Regions from separate parts of the Homo sapiens genome. Here region 2 is linked to region 1. Evidence: fine-mapped expression QTL. A gene starts in region 1. The other region holds a variant in brackets. All regions are shown on one strand. Distances are between the middles of the regions.

Evidence for each region. PIP is the estimated chance that this variant, and not a neighbour inherited with it, causes the effect. A credible set is the group of variants that fine-mapping cannot tell apart.
Region 2: its variant is the best candidate, but not a certain one, in a credible set for the expression of PLPP4 in testis (GTEx, PIP 0.86).

Annotation. Positions count from the first base shown.
Region 1 is chr10:120,452,691-120,461,990 of GRCh38, reverse strand. It overlaps PLPP4 (phospholipid phosphatase 4), which reads right to left and starts at 4,764. Exons shown (of 7, transcript NM_001030059.3): 1 at 4,630-4,764. The coding sequence starts at 4,685.
Region 2 is chr10:120,724,260-120,733,794 of GRCh38, reverse strand. The region is part of intron 2 of LINC02930 (long intergenic non-protein coding RNA 2930); the gene reads right to left. Among named protein-coding and RNA genes, the nearest start is that of LINC02930, 120 kb to the right of the region's middle. The variant G/A (reference allele first, on the strand shown) is at 4,911.

The sequences.
Region 1 (9,300 bases):
AAGATGAGTCTGTTTTTGTCGATATTTCAAAAATCTACCTGACATCCAGTGCCCTCAAGCAAGTCACCTGGACCAGGTAAAGCACCAAGTTTCCCTCTGTCTTGCTGGAATTACACCAATCAAAGCGTACCAATGAAGGGAAAAGGAAATGACTATCACAAATGCTTGCACCTAGAAGGTGCCAAATATCCATCAAGTGGATGAACAATGAAAGAGAAATGTTTGGAGGCAAAATTTTCAAAGCCAGTAATTGCATTGGAGACAATAACAAATGGTGGCCCACTGTGTACTTTCCCTACTGGACTGTAAGGTACTGGGGGCCACCTGGCCTTCTCTCCTCTCATCCCCTGTGCCTGGCAAAGGCCTCTTGCATCCTAAGAGCTCAAAGAAGGATGCTGGATTATCTAAGGGGAGGTAAACACCATTACCTGTGCACCCTGGCATCCTAAGCAGCTCCTAGGGGGACCCTGCAGACAGAGAGCCACCAGAAATGACAGGGAGGGATAGGGAGAAGGGCAGATGGAAGGAAGGAAAGAGGAAGATAAGACGCCAAGGAACTCAAGCCTACAAGTGAAACAGACAGACCATCTTTCCCCCCGTCCAGCACATGAGATCGTCATCATCTTTCTAGGGTCCTTTCTGCAATCTTGTAAATACAGAGTGCTTGAACTAACAGATGTCCTGGGAGATGACAGCCAAAAACGGTGGAAGAAAGCAGTGTATTCCTAGTTTCTTACTACTACAATTGATGTTCTCACCGGCAATTTACTCACCACATCGTACTCTTAAAATCTATGCCATGATCAAATCCCATCTTTTAGGAAGTGTGAACCACTGCTGCCATCCCTCCACCTTTGAGGTGTCATCCTAGCATGAGATTTTAGAGCTACAGTGACAGCTTCCCACACATCACTCCAGGCAATGTGTACTTGCTCTTCTGGAGATAAGGAGTCATGGAAGGAATTGCTCACAGGATGTGGTCAGTTTAGCACCAGTCTGGAAGCCTGGGGCTGGATGTCTTCTGTCTCAGAGGCTGACCACTCAGGGACATGGGGTCAGCTGCCTGTTTGAATCAGGGTTATACCTCCTGCTAGCTGAGTGACTTCAGGCAACTTACTCAACCTTTCTAAACCTTGGTTTCTTTGTTTGTAAAGTGGGAATAATGAACAGAATCCAGTGAGATGAGGCTTAAAAGAGAAATCACATGGAATACCTTTTGCATGAAGTTAGCCCTGGACTGACCAAAACTGGCTGCTATTTTTTATGAAGCAAAGTGATTGAGAGTCCAGACCTTGCAGATGGAGCATCTAGATTTAGATCTCAGAGCTGCCCTTGTTAGCCCTGTTACTTGGGAAGTTCCTTAATTTTACTGTGCTTCAGTTTCTTCATCTATGACAAAGAAATATCAATATACCCCCTTCATCAGGCTAAATGGCATACGGGATAGTCTTCATTGGTGCCTGACACACAGTAAGATCTCAGTAAATGATTGCTATTGTACTGGTGATAGTGGTCAAAGTGAGTAGCATGCTTCTAGTAGTGCACCATTGGTCTGCTGGGTGTTAACCAGCCATCTCATTTCTACACTATGTGCTTGCTGAGTAAGGTCTGTTGCTAGCCTTGGCATTTGCAGAAATACTCAAAAGAATCTCTCCTGGAGTCTTGGGTAGCAGCAGGACAGAAGAAGCCCAAAAGTGCTTCTCCTTCCTGCTCTGCCCACAATCCATGAGTAAGAGCAATAGGACCTCAAGGCCTACACACTTCATGGTACTAAACACAGCCTCAAAGCTTCACATTTTACTTTTATTTTTCCTAAACACTGGGTTCCTGTAACCAATTTATCTTCTGTTATGTTAAACTTTATATGCCAGCCTTGATTTGCATTACTCTACTAATTTCCTTCCCAGCGATTTGAAGTCCTTAGGCAGGACTGAGCATCTACGGGTTGGTTGCGGGAGCGGGGGTGCCTGGAGAGCAACCTCTCAGAATTCTGAATGCACAAAACCTCAGCACTGTGCCTAGTCTAGAAACAGAAAAAGGGATCTTTAAGAGTCAGTAAGGAAAAGCTTGCATCCCTACTACCCGTGGGCCCAAAATGCATTTTCTTAGCTCTCACTTGGAATCTTTGAGGAGCATATGGGCTACGGGTAACAGGATCCCTGCTCTCATGCAGAGCAAATGTAGTCAGAGAACAGGCACATCTACAGGTGATGTTTCTCCGGGGGCATAAGTTTGCAAAGAAGCAAGATACCCCCTCTCCCCGCAGATAATTCTTTCATCCTGAGCAATAGGGTAGAAATACCAAGCAAAACTAGCTGCTGAGCTACACTGGCTGAAGCAGGGAAATCGGATTCAGCCTGCCCAGGGGCACTTTCTAAACCCCTGTGCTGCTAAGACCACCATCTTCGTGAGCAGAGGTAGGTACAACCCAATATTGCCATCATTTCCAGTACTGGCAAAAGGAAGAATTAAACTTCCCCCAAAAGTCAGCCTCTGTCAAGGTGCCAGACGCTTATCTGAGAAAACAAAGGGTCATCTGTTTCTGCATGCTCCCAGCCGTCCTCCCAGAAGTCGGTACATGCCTGATACTAACAGCATCTGAACATCCAAGATCTGCCCCCTAGGGAGGCTCGCATCAATACCAAAGCTGGTTTTTGCAGGTAAAAGAGCCACAAGTTGGACACACTGTTAACAACTTGATAAGAAACCTGGGAGTCATCCAAAAATGCTATCAATGTCCATGTGTGACAACAGATCCCCTATTAAGTAACACAAGAGGGAACTTCAGAGAACAGAACATAAACTGCCTGTCCAGCTTTTACATGACACCCTTAGAAAAAGCAAGACGCGCATAAGCAATAATTACCAAGTTTTCAAATTTACTGCATAGACCATTGTATATCTGTAAACATCTCATAAATATTTGGGGGGGATATTGGAAGGGACACCTGAAAACTATAAATATTTTTACATATTGTTGGACCCTTTTTTATCTGAGCACCCCCAGCAGCAGTCAAACCAGATAGTGAGATAGTGTAAGAGCCTATCTCACTTTATCTCAGCATTCTTCCTACATTCACCCAACAAATGTTAAATTCTACTGTGCACTGAAAACTAGTTTATCATTTCTATCACATAATAATTTAATGAGGTTTTAGCCCATCTGCCAATTAGAAACTGTCCCCATCTGATCACACAGCAATCATTAGTTTTAACGTACATTCCAAAGGTAGAAAATAGAGTAGGAGAAGGGAAGAGTGTTTTGTTTTTCCAAATGCATCAAAATCCAACTGAAGTTCTCGTTCCTTCTTCCCAGTGAATAACACCAGTGTTCGGGCAGAAGGCGGGAGAGGGGGGCTTGCTTGCATCTGGGGGAGCTCATGGCCTTTTCTGATGGTGTGAATAAATACTCTGGATGAATTTAATCCCTGCTAAAGAAAAACATGCAAGAAAGGGCATTTCTTTCCATGTGTATCCCCTGGGCTGCCCAGAACAGAAGTCATCTTTGACACAGCACACCTGCCATGGATGACTCCAGATTGAGGCAGAAATTCAAAGAGGGCCTCCTGTTTGGCTCGGGAGGGCTTTTCCAGAAACGAAAACAAAAACAAACAAATAAATAAATGCATGGCAAATCCAAAAAGTTCATGTAACTTTAATACTTAGAATGTGGCAGAAAACATCCATGGGCAGAGAGGGGGAGAGAATTTGGCTCACTGATGGAGGGACCAGTGCAGGTGTGGGTGCCTAGGTGACAGCAGCTCACGGGAGGCTGCGGGGTGGCTCTGAGCTGGTGTTCTGGGCTCAGGTCTGAAAGAGAGATGTGACAGCTCCCTGCAGCTTGGGCCCTGGAAGTCAATGAGCGGTGGGTCCCTGGGCGCACGGAGGAGGCTCAGGCATCTCTGAAAGAACCTGCGCCACCACCCCTTCTTCTTTTCGGGATCGCTGTTCTCAGTGCCAGCCGCTCAAAGCCACCCTGGGCATTTCACGGCTACCCCTGGAGGGCCTCCGCCCCCAAAGCGGACATCGACCGGGCACAGAGCTCCAGGGTGTGTGTATCCCACCCCGGCCTGCAGCCCCTTGACTTCTCAAGCCTCCACAGCAACAGTTTCTCAGTAGGAGAAGCGCCGCAAACGCCCGCTGGGAAAACGCTCGCCAGGACCGCGGGCGCTAAAGCCAGGGACACGGAAGGAGTCTGGCCCTGGGCACAGCGGGGAGGAATCGGAGACGGGGCCAGGGGTAAAGACTTCCAACGTGGGCCTCAAAGATCACACAGAAGGAGAAACTTCCCGAGGGCACGGGCCAGGGTGCGCGTCCCTGTTTAGAGGTGCAGCCCTGGATCCCCCGGGCAGGTGGTGCGGGGCTGGCGACAGGCGCGGGCCCGGTGAGACCCGGGAGCAGGTCTCAGCCTCGGCGCGCGGTGGTCGCTCCGCGCCTAGGGTCCCAGGAAGGAGAGAGGAAGGGTCTCTCTTGGTCCCGTAGGACACGTTGCGGGCACTTGGCGGGGAAGGGACCTCGAACCCAGGCCCCAGTGGGAAGCGGCTGCGCAAACTAAGTTAGGGCACAGAGAGGCTTGGTCGGTTGTTCCCCCGCGTCAGTGCGCCCTGCCCGCGGTGCGCCACTACTTACACGAAGACTCCGAAGAGCAGGGCTCGCACCCCGATCTCAATGGCCAGCTCCCGCATGGTGCGGCCGGAGCAGCTCCCGCGGCGTCAGCTGGTGCTCTCCGCGGCTCCCGCAGCTCGGCCGGCGCCGGCTCGCCAGACCCTGGGAGGCGAGGGAGGCGCGCTCCAGGCCGCGGGCGGGGGCGGAGGCGGGCGCCGGGCGGGGGCAGGCGCCGGGGAGGGCTCAGCCTAAACCTCGCGCCTCGGGCTCCGGGGCTCCGGGAAGCCGCGCCGGCCGCTGGCGATACTGCGGACCCCGCCTCCTAGTGCGGAGCCGGGGCCGCCTCAGGGACTCCCGGATCCCTCTCCCCAGGAGCCGCCTCCGCCTCCTGGGCCCGCGCCGGGCACCCGCGGACCGGGGAGGGGAAGCCCGGGGAAGCCCCACCGCCGCCGCCGCCTCCCTGCGCGCTCCCCGCCTCCCCCGCCAGTGGGCGGCCCCTGGGCTCCGCGCCAGGGCAGCGCGCTCGCTGGGGCTCTGCCCGCGGCCCCTCTGCAGCTCCTGGTCCTGCCTCCGACTCCCGCTGTCCGGGCTCTCGCTCCCTGGCACACGCACGCACGTGGGCATGTAGTGGACGATCGCTCTGGGGATTCTCCAGGGCTCAGGGCAGCCCTGGCCAACCTTGCTCCCGTGTTCGGCCCTCCCTACACCGTTCGAACCTGAAATTCTTTCTTTTTTCTAGGAAGTTCCCCAGAGATCACTCGCGGGCTTCGCTTTGCTCTCAGGAGATGCCAGCCAGGGTCCAGGGCTCCGGCACAGAGAGAGGGCAAAGGCAAGCCTGGCTCCCCGCCATGCCACCAGCGCCAGGTGGCCCCTGGGGACCGAATCCTCTCTCCCCCACCACCTGTCCTCCGCCCCCAGCAGCTTGGGGCTGCTGAACTGTGGAATATGAAAAAGCTCCTGCCACCGTCCCTGGCCTGGCCGGTGTGTGGGAAGTCAGGGTCGCTCGTCGCTGACACAGCATTCAACCAGCCGTCAGCCAGGCAGCAGGTAGAACCCAGAGCCTCATCCTCAGGTTAAGAGCCAAAAGCCCAACCCTCGCAGCCTAGGGGTCACGACCTCCAGCTGGAGCCCAGCAGGAGCTTGGATTTGCTTTTCCCAAACCGGTCAGAATTTTATTTACTTTTCTTAGAATTTTGACTTCTTGGCTTCACTAATTTAAACCAAGCAGACATTTAAAATGCAAAACACACAGTGATTATAACCATTAGGTTGTTCCTGGGGAGCCCAGGCCTCTCTTGGATTTTAGGAGAGACCCAGCCAAAATTGTGTGAGCAGAGGACACGGATTAGAAGGTGGTTCCTGGGACTAAGGAGCTATGGCTCAGTCCTGGATAAAAGGGGGAGCAGGTAGAAAGAACTTAGGAGGAAGCCCTTGGCATCAGCAAAGGGCAAACAGACCCTACCTCCAAAGGAAACACGTGCAGATCAGAGATACCTGAGCCCAGATATCTCAGGGTCTAGAGAGAGAGAGGCAGAGGGAGTAGGAACAACCCAGGCTCTGTGTGGGAGGGACTCCAGCCCTGAGGCACCACAGGCAGGAGCTGTATCTGCATTCCTCATCACTCTATGCCCAGTGCCCGGCACACTGTGGATACCTGGTTGGTACTTAGTAAATGAATAAATATTTATTCATACATATATATATATATATATGGCTATATATATGATATATTCATTCATATATATTATATATGGCTATATATATGATATATATATACACGTATATATCATCAGGCACATGGGGTGTCAGGTGCAGGTAAGGTAGGAAGGTCTTGGAGGGAGGAGGTATGCTTCTGTCTCCTCTGTATCTTGGGCCCAGCAACTACCTTGGACATAACAACTCCCACGGATTGGCAAAGTGCTGTAGGAGAGCCCATAGGCAGCCTAGTGAACACTGATGATCTCGGTCTGAGATTGTCAGGTGGCCATATTCCAGCAGGGCATTCTGACAATAGCCCCTGACATTGGGGCACCACTTACCTATAAGCATCTGCTGAGTTTGAGTACAGCCTGTGCAAAGTTGTGTGCTGGGTGAGACGATTCATAATCTGTCTCTGCCTTCAAGAAGATGGGGAGCTGATAGACCACAAGGAGACATCAGGGAAGTATGCAAAGCAGTATTAATAAGTCACAAACACATGCTTCAGAAATCTGGATCGCTCAGAGGTCAGAAGTTGGAACCACATCATCAGTCTGAGATAGCCTGAGGACACAGCCTCACGGAAAGGAGCTGGCTTTTGGACCAGGCGCGATGGCTCATGTCTGTAATCCCAGCACTTTGGGAGCCCGAGGCAGGAGGATCATGAGGTCAAGAGATCGACACCATCCTGGCCAACAGGGTGAAACCCCATCTCTACTCAAGATACAAAAATTAGCTGGGCATGGTGGCGCATGCCTGTAGTCCTGGCTACTCAGGAGGATGAGGCAGGAGAATCGCTTGAACCCGGGAGGTGGAGGTTGCAGTGAGCCCGAGATCACGCCACTGCACTCCAGCCTGGGCGACAAAGTGAGACTCCATCTGAAAAAAAAAGAAAAAAAAGAAAAGGAAAAAAAAATGAGCTGGCTTTTGTAAGGCAAAGAAAGAAAAAAATAAGGGGGAGAAATTCTTGGTAGGGGCAAGAAAGTAGGTGCAAGGAGCAGAAGGTGGAAGTGGTTTTGGAGGGCAAAAGGAGTTACCCTGTCTGACAGAGCAGAGAAACCACCCGAGGTTAGGTTGGTGGAGGAGACGTAGTCGTGACAATCCTGCCCACCAGGGTCTGTTACCAGGGTCACAGAGAGAATATTCAGTTTATCACTTCGTATTTGTATAGAGATACCCAGAGAGGGAGTCAGAAGGGGCATGTAACTTCACTTCATGGTCATTAAGAGACTCTGAAACACATAGATCGAAAGAAGTGCCCAATAAAACCCCCCATTTTGCTGGAATTTATTCTCCATTATCTCCCCCAAGTGCTCATCCAGTGCAGGGTGCAAATCCTGCCACTGAAAAGGCATTCACCCTTGAGGGAGCATGTACCCTCTTCAGATGGCTCTTTCAAAAGCATTTCCTTACAGGGAATTGCTACACACCACCTTGCAACTTACATCATTGCATCAGTCCTGTCCCACCAGCTACTCGGAACTATCACAGTCAACGCTTCTATGGTGACAAACAACAGATGGCTCAACCTAAACTTATTTAAGAAAAGACAACTGAAAAGTCCAATGGAAGGTCAGCCTTCACACATGACTGAATTCTGAGTGCAAGCAATGTCATCAGTACCTGGTTCTTTCCAACTCTCTGCTCTGTCTGCACTGCATTGACTTCAGTCTCAGGCTCCTGGTAGTTTCAAGATGGCTGCAGGCATTCCAGCTTTACACCCTCTCAAGTTCAAGTCTGACTAGAAAGACCTCTGCCTAGGTCCCAGCACTCCCAGCAAAAGTGTCGTAGAATGTCATTGTTGCTGCCAACCCTGAACCAATCACTGCAGTCAGGGAACCATGATGAATTGATTGTCTCAAGCCTGGTCACATGCTTCATCCCTACCCAAAGCTTCCGAGACTGGGGAGAGGTGACCCTACATATACAGGGCTGATGCTTTGGAGCAGGGAGAATGTTTGATGGGAAAGTAAACAACCAGGGGCCATCCTGTTCCATGCTGCATGGTGGGGTCATCCCCAACCATTCTTGTCCAACCCCACGATCATTAACCAGTAAAAGGGAGTTATTCTGGGTGCTCCATGATAAGGCTGCCCAATTTCTACAACTGTCAATACAGATTTGCAATTTGTTGTAAGTTTGTGTTCTCTGAAGGTGGCTTTAAACAAAGCTATGATGTCATCCTTGATGCTTGTCTTCAGCTGCCCAGTCTCTTCTTTCTCCAGTCCCTTTGGCAACCCTGTCATCTCCTCTAATGATCCCTTTTTCCATTTACCAAAGCCTGTTGTCAAGGGAAAGCTCTAGCCTTATTCATTATATAAACCTGGATCAGGATGTCTCTGGGGGCTCTCTCACACAGAAGGATCTATAATTTAATCCAGATCCTTCTTGAAGGGCAGATAGGCTCTGATACCTCTGAAAAGTACTGCAGATGGCATCTTCAGTGCCCCAAATCACAAAAAGCAGGAAGCAACACCCACCCCCCTACCCCCCACCACCCGCCACCCCACCCCGCCACCTGCCACCCGCCACATTCCTTCCATGTGTTTGGAGGTAGCTGGCTCTCGCAGCTGTTCAGCTATGAGCATATGCCAAGCAGGTAGAGCCCTCCTGAAATGTCATGTTGCTGCACCAGCAGACAAATGAGCTTACAGGGAGTCAAGAAACAGAGCCAGGTTAGATAACATGATCCAGCCACAGCACCTAGGTGCCAGGCTTGGCAGCCCCTGCTGGGTCTTTTTAAGATCCCCATGGAATGTGATGAGTCCTCTGGTGACGGAACCATGGGTCAGAGCTTCAGCAGCCTCAGAAATGCTTTATCATAAGAAAGAGAATAAACATGGCAATCCCCCTACCAAGACATGATGAACAACATAGCTGTAAAGTGCGAGACTGATCTTTGAAAAATCACTTTGAAAAATCTAGACACTCATTGAGTGTAGCTTTCTCCAATGCTTTTGTGGCTGCACACATTTTCAAAGTGCCACTTTGGGGAAA
Region 2 (9,535 bases), 270 kb before region 1:
TATATTTATATATTTATATATATTTATATATATTTATATATTTATATATATTTATATATATTTATATATTTATATATATTTATATATATTTATATATTTATATATATTTATATATATTTATATATATTTATATATATTTATATATTTTTATATATTTATATATATTTATATATATATTTATATATTTATATATATTTATATATATTTATATATATATTTATATATTTTTATATTTATATATGTATAATTTATATATATTTTTATATATTTATATATTTATATATATTTATATATATTTATATATTTATATATTGGTATATATATTTATATATATTTATATATTTATATATTTATATATATTTATATATTTATATATATTTATATATATTTATATATATATTTATATATACTTATATATATTTATATATATTTATATATATTTATATATATTTATATATATTTATACATATTTATATATATTTATATATATTTTTATATATATTTATATATATGAAGGGAAGTAATAGAATATATATATATATATATACACACATACACACACACACACACACACATATATATATAAAGGGTAGTTTATTAGGAGAGTTGACTCACATGATCACAAGGTGAGATCCCACAATAGGGCATCTGCAAGCTGAGGAGCAAGGAATCCAGACTGAGTCTCAAAACCTCTAACATAGGGAAGCTGATGGTGCAGCCTTCAGTCTGGCTGAAAGCCCGAGAGCCCCTAGCAAATCACTGGTGTAAGTCCAAGAATCCAAAAGCTGAAGAACTTAAGAGTATCCAACATGGAGGAAAGATGAAGGGCAGAAGACACGGCAAATCTCTCTCCTTCCACTTTCTTCTGCCTACTTTATTTTAGCCACGCTGGCAGCTGATTAGATGGTGCCCACTCAGCTTGGGGGTGGGTCTGCCTCTCCCAGTCCACTGACTCAAATGTTAATCTCCTTTGTCAGCACCCTCACAGACACACCCAGGAACAAATACTTTGCATCCTTCAATCCAATCAAGTTGACACTCAATATTAATCATCGTGCTTGTTTTCAAGGCTGATTCATGTACTTGTAGGTTAAAAAAACTGTTGGATTCCACATATATTACAAGCAATAACCAAGTGATTTGGTCATTTTAATTAACAACTGTGTAAAACAAGTAAAAATCATTTTGTAAAATATCAAACATTAATAAATGGCACAATTTATGGCAGTTTGATTTACAAAATTCTCTCAAATATGATATTTCTTTGCTTCTCTGAACACCCATCTTGAATGGGTTAGATTGGGAATCATTTTATAGATGAAATAATAGAAACTTGGAGAAGTCAACTGACTTGAGTTAGTGAAGGCTGATTCAGGACAAGATTTTCTGATTCCAAAGCCACTGTCCATCCTATAACACCATCAAGCTCATTCCCCTCACCTCTATATCATAAACCTGCTGGCTGTTTGACTAGTTTGGCCAGTGGATTGGATGATTTAATCAATTAACGTGTTAGTCATAGACAAAGAAACCTGTTCCTCTCCAAGCTCAGCCATTTACTAGCTGTTTGACATCTGACTTTGAATGAGTCATGGAAATATTGTCCAAGCCTTCAGTTTCCTGAAGTTGGGGTTAAAGAATAAAGTCAATAAAAGAAAATATACTTTTTAACTCTCAGTTGGTTAGAGTTCAGCATCCTCCTCCTTATCATTATTATAACAACAATAACTACCCTTTCTTCTGTTCTGATTGCATACCTATACTGTTCTTAGTACTGGACATTAAGAACTCATTCACTTCCGTAACACCTAAAGTAGGTACTCTCCTTATTCTCATTTTACAGATGCAGAAACTGAGGCATAACAAAGTTAAGCAACTCAATATGGTTAAATATCTAGTCAGTAGATGGGGAAGGATTCAAATTAAGGTAGTTTTGCATCAGAGTCCGTGCATTATTACATAGAAAGCACCTAGCCCAGTGCTTGGCACAGCAAAGCTCAGTAAACATAGTTTTTATTGTTAAATATTGCTAAATGCAAATCCTACCAGTTTATTGGGGGAGGGCCTATACCATTCTCATACTCAATGCAAAGGAGGCATCAAGTTCATCTATCTGGAAAGATGAGAACTGTGGGGATCTCCTGGTGGCTGAGCCCTCATCCAAGTATGCCCAAGCCAAAAGCCACAGTGTACATTTAATGTAATAATTCCTGCCACCATGTGCAAAGCCTTGAAAGCAATTAGTTCATACCCAGCTATTATTAAGAAGTTATTTTTGTAATAAAAATATGTCTTCCTTTAATTTCTACATAAATGCAAGGGTGCCAATACAAGTATAGTTTATTTAAAGATGTTCTTGCAGGAATTTAATTTATCCTTTTGAAGAAGCTGCAGAGGAAAGGTACAGAGATGAGCAAGACAATTTGGAAGTGTCCTGAGCTACAGATAAAGAAAGGGTAGCTTCTTTCTCACTGGAACTCAATATCAAACTCTCAGCTTGATCAAGGACAGAGTACATAAGTCTTTGGCGACCAGTGGCCCTTGGAGGTAATATCCCAGCTACTAGTTTGTATGAGTTAGAGTTATCATAGAGTAAATCTCAGCACACAATAGAATGGGTTACTTTGAAACAGTACAACAGGGACTGCAAACACAGTGCATGCCAGGGTTTTAGAGTGCTTTCGAGTGGGGCTTGTTAAAACTACAGGGTAAAAAACAAATACCCAAGCACAATATTTTCAGAAGCAACAAAGTATAGAAGAAAGAACATGTCAGGAGATCGAGACCATCCTGGCTAACACGGTGAAACCCCGTCTCTACTAAAAATACAAAAATTAGCCGGGCGTGGTGGCGCGCGCCTGTAGTCCCAGCTACACGGGAGGCTGAGGCAGGAGAATGGCGTGAACCCGGGAGGCGGAGCTTGCAGTGAGTCGAGATCGCGCCACTGCACTCCAGCCTGGGCGACAGAGCGAGACTCCCTCTCAAAAAAAAAAAAAAAAAAAAAAAAAAAAAGAAGAAAGAACATTGCACTTGGCACAAAACCTAAGCCTGAGCCCAGCTCTGTCCTTATAGATTGTATCCCATAGACAAGTCACTAACTGGCTTGATCCTCAGATTCTTCTAGACAATGGAAATAACATAAACTATTTCCTACAGTTCCTATTCATTTTGAAAAATCTTGAAACAAAGAACATGAAAGCACTTGGAAAACTATCAAATTTGAACTGCAAGCCATTTTAAATTCATTATTAATAACAAAAAAAGAGAGCCACCTAATATGAATGTCAAAATACATGGAAGAATCAGTACATTAGCAATTATATGAATCGTGCTGTCCTTTAGGCAGGTATAATCTAATTCTCATTATATTTATTGTACCAAATTATTTGAAATTACATTCAAGTTATGCCATGCAAATTATAGTCAGTGATGAATATGTTGAGCAGAAAACTATGTGATTTAATATTTACCATGTAACAGATCTAAATTGGCAAATACCTTAAGGCAGTGATTTAGGCTATTATTAAATAATGATGAAAAATCATTTACTCCCAATGTAGTTCTAGAATAAAAAGACAAACTTCTGAGGTTGGGGGGAATATTGGAGTTTCATAATGGCTTTGGATTAAGGCCTCGTCACTATTGACTGACTTGGTTGAAAACTGCTGGCTTCTTAAAGGTCAAGCATTATTATTCACCAACTTTTATAGTCATTTGTAATATGGGATGATATGCAGAATCAGGATCTCCCTGGATTCTCTTCTGAATACCTAAGGAGTCAGAGTTTATCAAGAGCAGGCGGGTACAGTATATTATTGATTCCTTCTTATGAACTTGCAGAGTTTTTGTAGAAGATCAGCTGCACCCTAGCTGAAATACACATGGATTCTGAAAATAAACATACATATGGGAAAACATAATCCACTGCGGATGAAAGATTTATCAGCCTGCCTCTTGTGACCCATATGGCAGCAAAATTAATGGCTGTTTGGAAGCTATAAATTTAGAAAAACCCTTTGTACATGGGAACTCATGTTTACCCATGCTGTATGTTAAGTAGCCTATGAAACAGCTGAACCATTGAGAAGCATCCTTCCTGAACTCTAATTTGTACACAATGGCCCTATTTACTTGGAAAGCCTCTTTATTTTCTAAGGAACAGAGCATCCAGTGCAAAAACTCTAATAAACAAACAAACAAAAAATAATACTAAGGCCCTACAGGATAAACCAAATTCCACAAGCCAGTTTCTGAGAAAAGTTATAAGGAAAGGGATTTGTATGCCGTGTTGTGGAACTGAAAAGACAGTTTTGTCAAACTTATCTCCCTTTTCAAATAAATTTGATGCAATGGATTTTTTTAATCTTAGGTAAATAATAAGAATCTTAGGTACTATTACGGGAACGATTTTGGAAAAGACCAGTGAGAGCATTTTTTAGATTTGCCCCTCTGCAATAGGGCAAGAGGGTGACAACAGTTAATCTCAGAGGTTCTTCCCTTCTCTGACATCCTATGATCTTATGATTTCCTAATATTTAGGTCTACCTGTCAGGTATACAGCCTCCTAAGCCTATGGGATTTAGGACAAGGATCACAAACTTAAATATCTTAGTGGGCCAGGAATGAATACTCTATCAAATGGCAATTGTGGGGAATGAGGGAATGCATGTCCCTTCTAAAAGGGGTGTTAAGGATTGAATTGTGTCAATTCAAATTTATATGTTGAAGTTCTCATTCCCAATACCTAAGAATGTGGCTTTATTTGAAAATAGGGTTGTTGCACCCCATCAAAAAGTGGGCAAAGGATATGAACAGACACTTCTCAAAAGAAGACATTTATGCAGCCAAAAAAACACATGAAAAAATGCTCCTCATCACTGGCCATCAGAGAAATGCAAATCAAAACCACA[G/A]TGAGATACCATCTCACACCAGTTAGAATGGCGATCATTAAAAAGTCAGGAAACAACAGGTGCTAGAGAGGATGTGGAGAAATAGGAACACTTTTACACTGTTGGTGGGACTGTAAACTAGTTCAACCATTGTGGAAATCAGTGTGGCGATTCCTCAGGGATCTAGAACTAGAAATACCATTTGACCCAGCCATCCCATTACTGGGTATATACCCAAAGGATTATAAATCATGCTGCTGTAAAGACACATGCACACGTATGTTTATTGCGGCACTATTCACAATAGCAAAGACTTGCAACCAACCCAAATGTCCAACAACGATAGACTGGATTAAGAAAATGTGGCACATATACACCATGGAATACTATGCAGCCATAAAAAATGAAGAGTTCATGTCCTTTGCAGGGACATGGATGAAACTGGAAACCATCATTCTCAGCAAACTATCGCAAGGACAAAAAACCAAACACCGCATGTTCTCACTCATAGGTGGGAATTGAACAATGAGAAGATATGGACACAGGAAGGGGAACATCACACACCGGGGACTGTTGTGGGGTGGGGGGAGGGGGGAGGGATAGCATTAGGAGATATACCTAATGCTAAATGACGAGTTAATGGGTGCAGCACACCAACATGGCACATGTATACATATGTAACAAACTTGCACATTGTGCACATGTACCCTAAAACTTAAAGTATAATAATAAAAAATAAAAATAAAAAATAAAAAAATAAAAAAAAAGAAAATAGGGTTGTTGCAAATGTAATTACTTATGATGAGGTCATGGTAGAGGGGGGTGGACTCCTTAGCCAATATGACTGGTGTCCTTATAAAAAGGGGAAATGTAGGCCAGGCAAGGTGGTTCACGCCTCTAATTCCCGCACTTTGGGAGGCCAAAGCAGGCAGATCACTTGAAGTCAGGAGTCCGAGACCAGCCTGGCCAACATGGGGAAACCCTGTCTCTACTAAGAATACAAAAATTAGCCAGGCATGGTGGCACATGCCTACAATCCCACCTACTCAGGAGGTTGAGGCAGAAGAATCACTTGAACCCAGGAGGTGGAGGGTGCAGTGAGCCGAGACTGCACCGATGCACTCCAGCCTGGACAACAGAGTGAGACTCCATCTCAAAAATAAATAAAAAATAAAATAAAAGGGGGAAATGTGGACACAGGCATGCACACAGGGATAATGCCAGGTGAACCATGAATGCAAAGGTTGACGGGATGCAACTACAAGCCAAGGAATTCCAAGGATTGCCAGGAAAGCATCAGAAGCTAGGAGAGAGGCATAGACCAGATTCTCCCTCACAGCCAGCGGGAGGAACCAGCTCTGCCAACATGTTGATCTGGGACTTCTAGCCTCCAGAGCTGAGATGATACATTTCTGTTATTTAAACCACCCAGTTTGTGGTACTTTGCTATGGCAGCCCTAAGACCCAATACAGAGGACAACATCTACTAAGCTTCAACCCAGTATTGCTATGTGAGATATGCTGGCTCACTTCTGCCCGTGTTCTAAGAGAAGGCAGAAATGTAGATTTTGTTCCATATAAAACATCCCAATTTAAACATGCTGGCAACAAACACAGGAAGACTTAACACAATGTAAAGGCAAAGTGTATCTGACCCACAAGTTACTCTGCTTTAAGGATTGCTGAATACACCCCAAATTATCTTGAAATTCGTATCCATGTTTGTTTTGGGTTAAGGCCCAGGAAGGCTTACAATACAGTGTTCATGGGTTATTTGGAGTGCTAACATATGAAATCAACATCATTTTTTTTCTTTAGCTCAAGTTAGTTGGTTAGATTCATCTATTCATTTGCATACTTTTGAGCATGTAAATCCTATTTTCAAAATTAATCTCCTGAAACTCAAAAACTAAAGTGGAGTTTTTTGGCACATGTTTATGTATTAAAGTAACATAATTAGTATGCAATATTTAATGTATAATGTATAATGCATAACATCATTTATTATAAGGGTGATCAATGGAACAAAAAAGATCATTTGATTAATAGAAATATCTGAAATTAGGATTTGTACAAGCCTATCAGAATTTTTATAATTTCTATTCAATTATTTTCTATATTGTGCTTTAGTTTCCTGTTCTGGAAAATCTTTGATATATACAGATTATGCAGTTGTAAAAGACAACAAAAGTTCTAATAAAACTTTACTTATAAGCAATGACGTTTGAATTTAATTAAATTTTCAGATGCCATGAGATATTCTTATAGGCCATACAAGAACAGGTGATGGGCTGAATTTGTCCCACGGTCTGTAATTCTAGGATATACATTAAAAGAATTGTTTAAAGGTGTGTAATATGGAAGCTAAAAAGGGGGAAGATGGAATAATAAAAATTCCCAATTAATCTAAAAGAAAGTGAGAAAGGAGAGAAAAGAGAACATAAAACAGACAGGACAAATAGCATTGAATAAGATGGTAGGGTTAAACCTAAATATATTTTATATAAATGGGTAAATGACCCGATTAAAAGAAAAATACTGTCAGAATAGGAAAGGAGAAAAGCTCAGTAATGGGTAAGCAAATGAAATATAAAAATGTGTGAACAAATAAAATATAAGTTGACGAAAAGAATGAAAATAAAAGATATGCAATTCAAACACTATAAAAAGAAAACTATATTCATATCAGATAAGGCAAACTTTAAGACCAAAAAGCATTACAAATGACAAAAAAGACATTTTGTAATATTATGCTTCAATTCATCAGGAAGCTATAACTATTCACAATTTGCATATACCTAATAGCACAGTCTCACAAAATATAATGCAAAACTTGACAGAGCCACAGAGAAAAAGACAAGCCCACCCTTACAAGAGAGAAATTAATATAACTGTTGATAACAAATAGAACAAGCAGATAAAAATTCAGTAAGAATTTAGAATATTTCAATAACATCTTTGGAAAACAAGATTAATATGCACACATAGAACACTGCATTGAAGAACCACAGAATGCATATTTGTTTTCAAGCACACACAAAATGTTTACCAAAATTGACAATAAGTTGTATCATAAAGCAAATATCTAACAATTTCAAATGATTGCAATCATTGAGTATGTTCTCTGAGTATAATACAATTTAATACAATTAAGCTATAAAACTATAAATTAATTATAAAATACATAACTATAAAAGCTGCATACATTAGAAAATTGAAAAATGTAATTCTAAATAGCCCATGGGTCACAGAAGAAATCACAATAAAAATTATAAAGTATTTTGTATGGTATAGTAATTAAACATGCATATAAAATGTGTAGGATACAGCTAATGGTATGCTTAGAGATTTCATAACCCTTAATACAGACATTAAAAAGATAAAGTTTTAAAATCAAGAATTTAAACATCCATTTCAGCAAGTTATTTTTTAAAACCAAACAATTAAAACTAAAGAAGCATTACATAGAAATATTATAGATACTATATGTATATACTCATGGGTTACATACATGTAGATGTTTCCCTGCTCTGTTAGCTGACAGAGTCTAGAAGCAATGATACCTCAGTAGCAACAAGCATGTTGTATTAGTCCGTTCTCACGTTGCTAATAAAAACACACCAAGACTGGGTAATTTATAAAGGAAAGAGGTTTAATTGACTCCCAGTTCCACATGGCTGGGGAGGCCTCACAATCATGGTGGAAGGTGAATAGGAGCAAGTTACATCTTACAGGGCAGAAAGCAAGAGAGAGCTTGTGCAGGAGACCTCCCCTTTATCAAACCATCAGATCTTGTGAGACTTATTCACTATCACAAGACAGCACGGGAAAAACTGGCCCCATGATTCAGTTACCTCCCACCAGGTCCCTCCCATGACACGTGGGGATTATCACAATTGAAGGTGAGATTTGGGTGGGGATACAGAGCCAAACCCCATATCACATACCTAACTCCAGATCTTGGATTCTTTTTTTTTTTTTTGAAACGAAATCTCGCTCTGTCGCCCAGGCTGGAGTGCAGTGGCGCGATCTCGGCTCACTGCAAGCTCCACCTCCCGGGTTCACGCCATTCTCCTGCCTCAGCCTCCGGAGTAGCTGGGACTACAGGCGCCCGCCATCACGCCCGGCTAATTTTTTGTATTTTTAGTAGAAACGGGGTTTCACCGTGTTAGCCAGGATGGTCTCGATCTCCTGACCTTGTGATCTGCCGGCCTCGACCTCCCAAAGTGCTGAGATTTACAGGCATGAGCCACCGCGCCTGGCCAGATCTTGGATTCTAAAACTATTCTTCAATTAAAGGAACCAGGGCTCCATGGAGAAATGCTGATGGTAGGACTGAGGCAGTAAATAGACGAGATGAGCCTGGAACATCTCTTATCATGCCAAAATGTAGGGAAAAGCTCAAAAACAAACAAAACACCCCACAATTAAGGGGTATGTCAAAGGGACACAGAAGCCAACTGAAAGAGCTCTCAATGGCTAAAGCTAAGAATTTTAGCAAAACTAGCTACATAAATAAGACAGTATTAGATTATAGCCCAAAGTATTACATAAATATTCACAAGTCTATACTGACACAAATAAATGATCGAATTAATAAATAATTGAGGGAGAAGAGAGAAATTTCCCATGAAGAAGAACTCCAA